Regions from separate parts of the Homo sapiens genome. Here region 1 is linked to region 2. Evidence: fine-mapped expression QTL. A gene starts in region 2. The other region holds a variant in brackets. All regions are shown on one strand. Distances are between the middles of the regions. Region 1 has its middle 12 kb from the start of TM4SF5. Region 2 holds the start of VMO1 (vitelline membrane outer layer 1 homolog).

The links. PIP is the estimated chance that this variant, and not a neighbour inherited with it, causes the effect. A credible set is the group of variants that fine-mapping cannot tell apart.
Region 1: its variant is the best candidate, but not a certain one, in a credible set for the expression of VMO1 in monocytes after R848 (Quach 2016, PIP 0.64).

Annotation. Positions count from the first base shown.
Region 1 is chr17:4,757,371-4,761,760 of GRCh38, forward strand. No RefSeq gene overlaps it. Among named protein-coding and RNA genes, the nearest start is that of TM4SF5, 12 kb to the right of the region's middle. The variant T/C (reference allele first, on the strand shown) is at 1,818.
Region 2 is chr17:4,784,367-4,788,756 of GRCh38, forward strand. VMO1 (vitelline membrane outer layer 1 homolog) reads right to left here and starts at 1,998. Exons shown (of 3, transcript NM_182566.3): 1 at 1,792-1,998; 2 at 1,571-1,686; 3 at 919-1,293. The coding sequence starts at 1,986. The coding sequence ends at 996.

The DNA of each region.
Region 1 (4,390 bases), 27 kb before region 2:
CTTCCTGGTATCCAGCAAAGGGCCTGGCACATATCATTTAGTAAATATTTGTTGAATGAGAGGCTAACTAATCAATCAACTTTATCATTGAGATTCTCTGTTTCTTTATACGTTTGTATATTTTTCTTACTTTGTCGAAGAGAATTATATTACAGTTTCCCACTACTATTATATTTCTGACAGTCTCCCTCGGCATTTCTAACTATTTGGGGTTTTTTTTCTTTTCTTTTTTTTTTTTTTTTTTTTTGAGACTGAGTGCCCTTTCTCATAAAACACCAACCACTTCCTCTATGGAAATAAATTTATTCCCAGTACCTTCTTGGGTCTTGCAAATATTACAGCCAAATGCATTTTTTTTTTTCTGGCATGTCAGTGTCTGCTCACTGTAGAGGAGGGTGAACAAGTTCTGGTCTCCTGATCTCCAGGAGTCTGAGCTAGGAGAAGGAAGAAGAGAGAAATGTCAAAGGGCTATATTTGCAGGGTTTCTATGGAAAAATCTGATTTCAAACAATCTTCATCATCTGAGATGGTTTCCCTTCTAATGACTCCATCTGGTCCTCACGTCGATCTTAGTTCTCAGGAGCTGATAACTCTGGCCTTGCCTTGCTCAGAGAGCATTCAACCCCCACTCCTCCCCAGGTCACATTGCCAAACACCTTCAGTGGCAATTCATGGGTCCTCAGAAAAGCATCACTCTCATTCCTGGTCTCCCTCCCTCCACTGCTCTCCTCTACAATCCCACCTCAGGTGATCCTCCCGCCTCGGCCTCCCAAAGTGCTGGCATTATAGGCATGAGCCACCGTGCCTAGCCCGGAATCTGCTTTTAACACCATCTTCAGGAAATCTGTATGAAGTTACGGTTTGAGAAGTACTGAACTAAGCAGACAGCCAAGTAAGAGCCCCTCCTGTCCAGGTCTAAGGGTAGTTCCGATTCCCTGACCAGCAAATCTTGAGTAGCTGCCTCCCAGTAGCTGCCTCCCAGTCACTCTCTACCACACCACCCTATTTCCTTCATGTAATTTAGCATAACCTCTAATTTCTAGTTTACTGCCTGTCTCCCCAAACTATAATATAAACTACGAAGAGGTACCTCATCTGTCAAGTTTAGTGCTGTATCCACTGGGTCCACAACTAGGCACATTACACAGAGGGTACTCGATCCTGCATTTCACTGACTTAAATACTTTCAAGTGTTATACATCATGCTTTTGTTTGTTTGTTTGTTTGTTTATTTTGAGACAGAGTCTGGCTCTGTCGCCCAGGCTGGAGTGCAGTGGCATCATCTTGGCTCACTACAGCCTCTGTCTCCTAGGTTCAAGCGATCCTCCTGCCTCAGTCTCCTGAGTGGCTGGGACTATAGGCGTGCACCACCATGCCCGGCTAATTTTTGTATTTTTAGGAGAGATGACATTTCACCATGTTGGTCCGGCTGGTCTCAAACTCCTGACCTCAAGTGATCCATCTGCCTCGGCCTCCCAAAGTGCTGGGATTGCAGGTGTGAGCCACAGCACCCGGCCAAACCATGATACAATGCTTTCTTAACACTTCAATTTTTATTTTATGCTAATTGAAGTCTCTTTCAGACCATTAAAAAATCTAATTCTGGTGCGTACACAAAAACAAAAATAATATGGTTAAAATATTCCAAAAAAATCTTTAAAGTCTGACTCTTCTGAATCACTTTCTATCAGTGCCTGTGTTGCTGTCCCCTCTACTGTCGAGGGCATTGGAGAAGCGGAATTTCTTTAAAAAGTGCTCCACTACTGTCTCCGAGATTTTCTTCTAAGCTAGTGACACATTCTTGTTTTACCAAATAG[T/C]GTCAACAAAATTGATGTCTTCACTAACAAATTTTCGCTCCACTACTTTATTTCTATGCTTAATACATCATTTCCTTTTGATTTCTGTTTTAAAGCATGTTATCTTTTTGAAGATTTTTTTTCTTAATAGCATTTATTTATTTATTTATTTATTTATTTATTTAGAGACACGCTTGCTGTCACCGAGGCTGGAGTGCAGTGGTGTTATCTCGGCTCACTGCAACCTCCGCCTCCTGGGTTCAAGCAATTCTCCTGCCTCAACCTCCGGAGTAACTGGGATTACAGGTGTACGTCACCATGCCTGGCTAATTTTTGTATTTGTAGTAGAGATGAGGTTTCGCCATGTTGTGCAGCCTGGTCTCAAACTCCTGACCTCAAGTGATCTGCCCGCCCCGGCCTCCCAAAGTGCTGGGATTACAGGCATGAGCCACCGCACCCGGCTGAATAGCCTTTATTTTTTAAAAGCAGTTTTAGGTTCACAGCAAAATTGAGCAGAAAGTACAGAGTTTTCTTTTCTTCTTCTTCTTTTTTTTTTTTTTTTTTTTTTTTTGTAGTTTTAGTAGAGATGGGGTTTCACCATGTTGCCCAGGCTGGCCTTGAACTCCTGACCTGAAGTGATCCGCCCGCCTCGGCCTCTCAAAGTGCTGGGATTACAGGCATGAGCCACTGTGCCTAGCCGAAAGTATAGTGTTTTCTTATACTCCTACCCCCACACATGCACAGCCTCCCCCACTATCAACATCCGGCACCAGAGTGATAGATTTGTTCCAATCAGTGAACTACATTGACACGTCATTATCAGCCAAAGTCCATCGCATAGTGTACATTAGGATTCGCTCTTGGTGTTGCACGTTCCATGGGTTTAGACAAATATATAATGACGCACCAGTATATATATAGTATCATACAAAGAAGTTTCACTGCCCTAAAATCCTCTGTGCTCTGTTTATTCCTCCTTCCCCTCCCTACCAACCCCTGGCTGCCACTGACCTTTTCACTGTCTTCAGAGTTCTGTTTTTTTCCAGAAAGTCATATACTTGTAGCCTTTTACTTTTTTTTTTTTTTCTCCCTTAAGATGGAGTTTCTTTCGCTCTTGTTGCCCAGGCTGGAGTGCAATGGCAAGATCTTGGCTCACCACAACCTCCGCCTCCCAGGTTCAAGTGATTCTCCTGCCCCAGCCTCCCAAGTATCTGGGATTACAGGCATGCACCACCATGCCCAGCTAATTTTGTATTTTTAGTAGAGTCTGGGTTTCTCCATGTTGAGGCTGGTCTCGAACTCCTGACCTCAGGTGATCCACCACCCTCAGCCTCCCAAAGTGCTGGGATTACAGGCGTGAGCCACCACGCCCGGCGGTTTTGGTTTATTATTATTATTATTATTTATTTATTTTTTTTAATAGAGACAGGGTTTCACCATGTTGTCCAGGCTAGTGTTGAACTCTTGGGCTCAAGGGATCTACCCACCTCAGCCTCCTAAAGTGCTGGGATTACAGGTGTGAGCCACCACACCTGGCCTTTTGTTTGTTTTTGTTAGAGACAGGGTCTTGCTCTGTCACCCAGGTTGGAGTGCAGTGGCACAATCACAGCTCACTGTAACTTGCAACTCCTGCCCTCAAGCAATCCTCCCGCTTCACCCTCCCAAAGCACTAGGATTACAGGCATGAGCCACCATGCCCAGCCCTACTGGAGCTTTGTAGTAAGTCTTGATGCTGGGTCGTGTCAATCTTCCAACTTTGCTCTCTTTCAATATTGTGTTGGCTATTCTGGGTCTTTCGCCCCTCCAGACAAACTTTAGAATCAGTTTGTAAATATCCATGAAATGGTTTTCTGGCATTTTGATTGGGATTGTGTTGAAGATACAGATCAATTTGGAAAGAACTGACATCTTGACAATGTTGAGTGTTCCTATATATGAACATGGACTCTCTCCATTTATTTATATCTTCTTCGATGTCTTTCATCAGAGTTTTGTAGTTTTCTTCATGTAGATCTTATACGTATTTTGTTAGATTTATATGTAAGTATTTAATTTGGGACAGTGCTAATGTAATTGGTACTGTGTGTTATTTGAAGACATTATAAACAGCAATTCAACTCAAGAAGTGTAGTACCAGTAGGGTTCACAACTCAGCTGAGGTGATAACAATACGAACAGCTACGACTGGGTTCTCACAAGTGTAGGCAAAACCTACCATGTTGTATGACACCATGGATTGTACAATATATCCTAATTTTGGGAAAAATAAAATGTGCTAAAACACGTGACTTAGAATTGATTGGCCAGGTGCAGTGGCTCACACCTGTAATCCCAGCACTTTGGGAGGCCGAGGCGGGCAGATCACTGGAGGCCAGAAGTTCGAGACCAGCCTGGCCAACATGGTGAAACCCCATCTCTACTAAAAATACAAAAAATTAGCCAGGCGTGGTGACACATGGCTGTAGTCCCAACTACTCAGGAGGCTGAGGTTTTAGTGAGCCAAGATCACACCACTGCTGTACTATAGCCTGCGTGACAGAGTAAGATTCTGTATCAAAAAAAAAATTTGAAATATGCTAAATATTTAACAAATA
Region 2 (4,390 bases):
AATTTTCTTAATCTTAGGTCACTGGTTCAGAAAGGAGACAACCTAGGCACCTAATGGGGGCAGGGTGTCTGCAGACTCTCTCAGAAAGCCAGACTTCCTGGGCCCGCACGATGGTGCAAGCCGGTAATCCCAAAACTTTGGAAGGCTGAAGCCAGTGGATCACTTGAGGTCAGGAGTTTGAGACCAGCTTGGCCAACATGGGGAAACTCCATCTCTACTAAAAATACAAAAATTAGCTGGGCATGGTGGTGGGTACCAGTAGTCCCAACTACTCAGGAGGCTGAGGCAGAAGAATCGTTTGAACCCAGGAGGTGGAAGTTGCAGTGAGCCAAGATCATACCACTGCACTCCAGCCTGAGTGACAGAGTGAGACTCCAAAAAAAAAAAAAAAAAAAAAAGCCAGACTTCCATCACTTGTCTGAAAATTATCTGTTTAAGTGCGTTTTTCTCGAGTCCATAACTTTTCAGCAATCTACCATAGACCCCTGAGACCAAATCCAAATGTATGCCTCACCTAATGCTAAGTTAGGAGGGGAAAAGGAGACTCAGTTCCCCATCCCTTAAACAGGCGAGACCAGCCGGGCATGGTGTCTCACGCCTGTAATCCCAGCACTTTGGGAGGCCAAGGTGGGCGGATCATGAGGTCAGGAGATCGAGACCATCCTGGCTAACACGGTGAAACCCCGTCTCTACTAAAAATACAAAAAAAAAAAAAAAAAATTAGCCGGGCGTAGTGGCGGGCGCCTGTAGTCCCAGCTACTCGGGAGGCTGAGGCAGGAGAACGGCGTGAACCCGGGAGGCAGAGCTTGCAGTGAGCCGAGTGAGCCACTGCACTCCAGCCTGGGGGACAGAGCGATACTCCGTCTCAAATAAATAAATTAATAAATAAATAAATGAAATAAACAGGCGAGACCAAAGTCAACTCAGAGAAGCTTTAATAGCAAGAGGTGGGACTAGCCTCCTGGCCCGGGAGAGAGCGGCGGCGGCGGCGCCGTTCAACTGCGGCAGCAGAATAAGCGCGCGTCGTTCAGCGCAGTGTCATCGCCGAGGCCTCTAGGTCCCTGGATCTTGGTCTGCAGGCCGCACGCGCCCTTGGGGCAATGGTCACTCCAGTCTCCAAAGTCTCCCCAGCTCAGCCCAGGCCCCTGCAGTTCCTCGCCGTCTGAACAGCGGAAGCGCACGTTGTTCGCTGCTGTGTTGTCACCGAGGGTCGTGGGTGCCTCCACGCGAAGCGAGAAAGCCACTAGGTAGGCGCCGCCGCGACACCACAGCGGCTCACTCCATTCGCCCCAGCTGCAAGGCAAAGGGAGATGCGTTGCCTCTGCGGGCCCCCCATTCACCAAGCCCTTGAGACTTTCCAAGCCAAGTGCTGTGTATATGACCTGGTGGGCTGGGTGCTCCCCGACCTCCGCCGAGGAGCGGAGGAGGGGTCTTCCATCCACCCTTCGCCTCCCCGGTCTATACTGCCCCGTAGCTCTGGCGGAGCCAGCCTGCCTGTTGCGACGGAGTATGTAATAGAGGGTAAGGGACATACCATCACCCCAAGGGATCCTCGACCCCTGCGCCCCACCTTCCAGACTGGGACTCTACCACGTGCGTATTGCCTAGGACGTTCCCGCGCGCGCAGTGCAGCCTGATCCCATTCAGTGCAGTGTCGTCGCCAGGAATGCCTTGGGGAGGCTCCACCTGGGTATCGAGGAGAGGGGCAAGGGCGAGTCACGGAATTATCATCCTTGGCTCTATGGTCCCACGCATCTCCGCCCTCTCCAGGACCTACGCCTGAGCCCCAACCTTGAGCGAGAACCCGCTGGCGAAGAATCCATCGGGACACATCTCAGGCCAGGCCCAGTCGCCCCAGGGACCCCCGCTGGTCACTTCGATGACCGCCGTGTAGCCGTTCCGGCCATCTGTCTGTGCACATGTGAAACCAGTCGCCCGCAGAAGCAGCAGCAGCGGCAGCAGCTTGGCTCCTGCGCCCCGCTCCATCCTGTAGCGTCTGTGAATCAGGCCTCCTAAGCAGATTTATATCAGTTTGGCCTCTGTGAGGGCTCCGATTGCGGAAGGGCCTCCCAGATTAAGTGAAACCCAAAACTAATCCACTCCCGGAACCCTATTTCCTGCTCCCGGAGGCAGAGGCTCCCAGAGCTAGGGTAGGAGGGGCAGTGAGAGAGGGCGAATTAAAATAACCATCACCTACTGAATATTTACTATAGGCTACGAATTATGGTTAGCGCTTTGCAGTATTTTGTTTAACCCTCACAACAATTTTTGGGGGGTGAGAATTATCCTTCCTATTTTGTAGATGAGGGAACTGGCTCAAAAATGGCAAGCAACTTGCCTTAGGTTTACAGCCAAGCAAGCTGGGAAACATTCCAGCAGTGAGAGTGGAGACAGAGCAGAGACCAGGGCTAGGGATGGAAGTGACCTCCCGGGAGTCCCACCAGTGACGGGATGGGGCAAGAGCAACCCAGAGACCTCCAGGATGTGAGGGGACATCAGAGTGAGGATAGGACAAGAATCCTCGAACTGGAGAAGCTGAGAAAACTCCTGTCAGCTCAGAAGTCTCTTCCTCCTCTGAGAGGTCTTCTGAGAGCTCAGGGCCCTAACACCTTGAGAATCCGGGACACTCCTCCCTACCTTAGAAGAAGACATATACAAACAGAAATAATTCTTTTTTATTTTTATTTTTTGAGTCGAAGTCTCACTCTGTCGCCCAGTGGCGGCATCGCAGTGGCGCGATCTCGGCTCACTGCTACCTCCACCTCCTGGGTTCAAGCGATTCTCCTGCCTCAGCCTCCCGAGTAGCTGGGACTACAGGCGCGCGCCAAGACGCCGCCCCGCTAATTTTTGTATTTTTAGTAGAGACCGGGTTTCACCGTGTTGGCCAGGATGGTCTCTATCTCTTGACCTTGTGATCCGCCTGCCTCGGCCTCCCAAAGTGCTGGGATTACAGGCATGAGCCACCGCGCCCGGTCCAACAGGAATAACTCTAAGAAGTTTGGGGACAGGAGACTAAGAACCCCTAAGAAAAGATCATGCTGTTTCTTCCATTGCTTTCTGTATCCTTATATCCTTTCCTGGAATGCCTTTCCCCCTGTGACCACCAGATGGACTCCTAATTTGCAAAACAAAAAGCGAGAAAATCTGGCTAAGTATGTTTTTTGTTTGTTTGTTTGTTTGTTTGTTTTGAGACGAAGTCTCACTCTGTTGCCCAGGTTGGAGTGCAGTGACGCCATCTCGGCTCACTGCAACCTCTGCCTCCCGGGTTCAAGCGATTCTCTTCCCTTAACCTCCCGAGTAGCTGGGATTATAGGCGTTCGCCACCACGCCCGGCTAATTTGTATATTTTTAGTAGAGACGGGGTGTTGCCATGTTAGCCAGGCTGACCTCAGGTGATCCGCCCACCTCGGCCTCCCAAAGTGCTGGGATTACAGGCGTGAGCCACCGTGCCTGGCCTAAAAATGCCTGGCTAAATTTGTTAGGGGCCACAACCCCAGATTTACCTGCCCCTCATACACACTCCTTTGTTTATTCAATACCTATTTAGCAATAATATGTTTTGGCTTAAGCAATATTCCACTTGCTGTAAGCAAGAATAACAAGGCCCCTGTCATCAGAGGTCACATTCCAGTGGGGGAGACAGAGGATAAATTCTCCCCCAGTGGACCTTGAGCTCTGTGAAGGCACTTTTGTATTCTTGAAGCCTAGTACGTGCGGAAGTACTTAATAAAAGTTGGTGCAATGAATGATTGAAGAGCCAATCTGGAGTTTTGAAAATTAAACCACAAAAATGCAAAAGGATAAAGCCTGACGTACGTATATGATTGCAAGAGGTCATGTATCCAGGTCAAGACAAAGTCCCCTGGGAATAAGATAGAGAATTTAGAAGTGGGTGTTCCCGGCTGGGCGCGGTGGTTTACGCCTGTAATCCCAGCACTTTGGGAGGCCAAGTTGGGCGGATCACAAGGTCAGGAGTTCGAGACCAGCCTGTCCAGTATGGTGAAACCCTGTCTCTACTAAAAATGTAAAAATTAGCCGGCACTTTCCAGCCTGGGCGACAGAGCGAGACTTTGTCTCAAAAAACAAAAAAACAAAAAACAAACAAAAAAAAAAAGAGAGCGAGAGAGAAGTGGGTGTTCCCTGGATCCCAGAGCCGGACAATGCTTGAACTTAATAAGATTTATAGGGCAATTGTGGTCAGCTTTTCCATTTAGTGTTTTCACATACGTTATCATTTAATCCTCACATGAGGCTTGCAAAGTACCTATTATTATCCTCAATTTACAGTGGAGGGAACTCAAGCCCAGAGTGAATTTAGGGCCCACACCACTGCTCAGTAGGGGAGCTGTTCTGGGCCCTGCCTCTCTTCCCAATACTCAGAGTGCCTCTT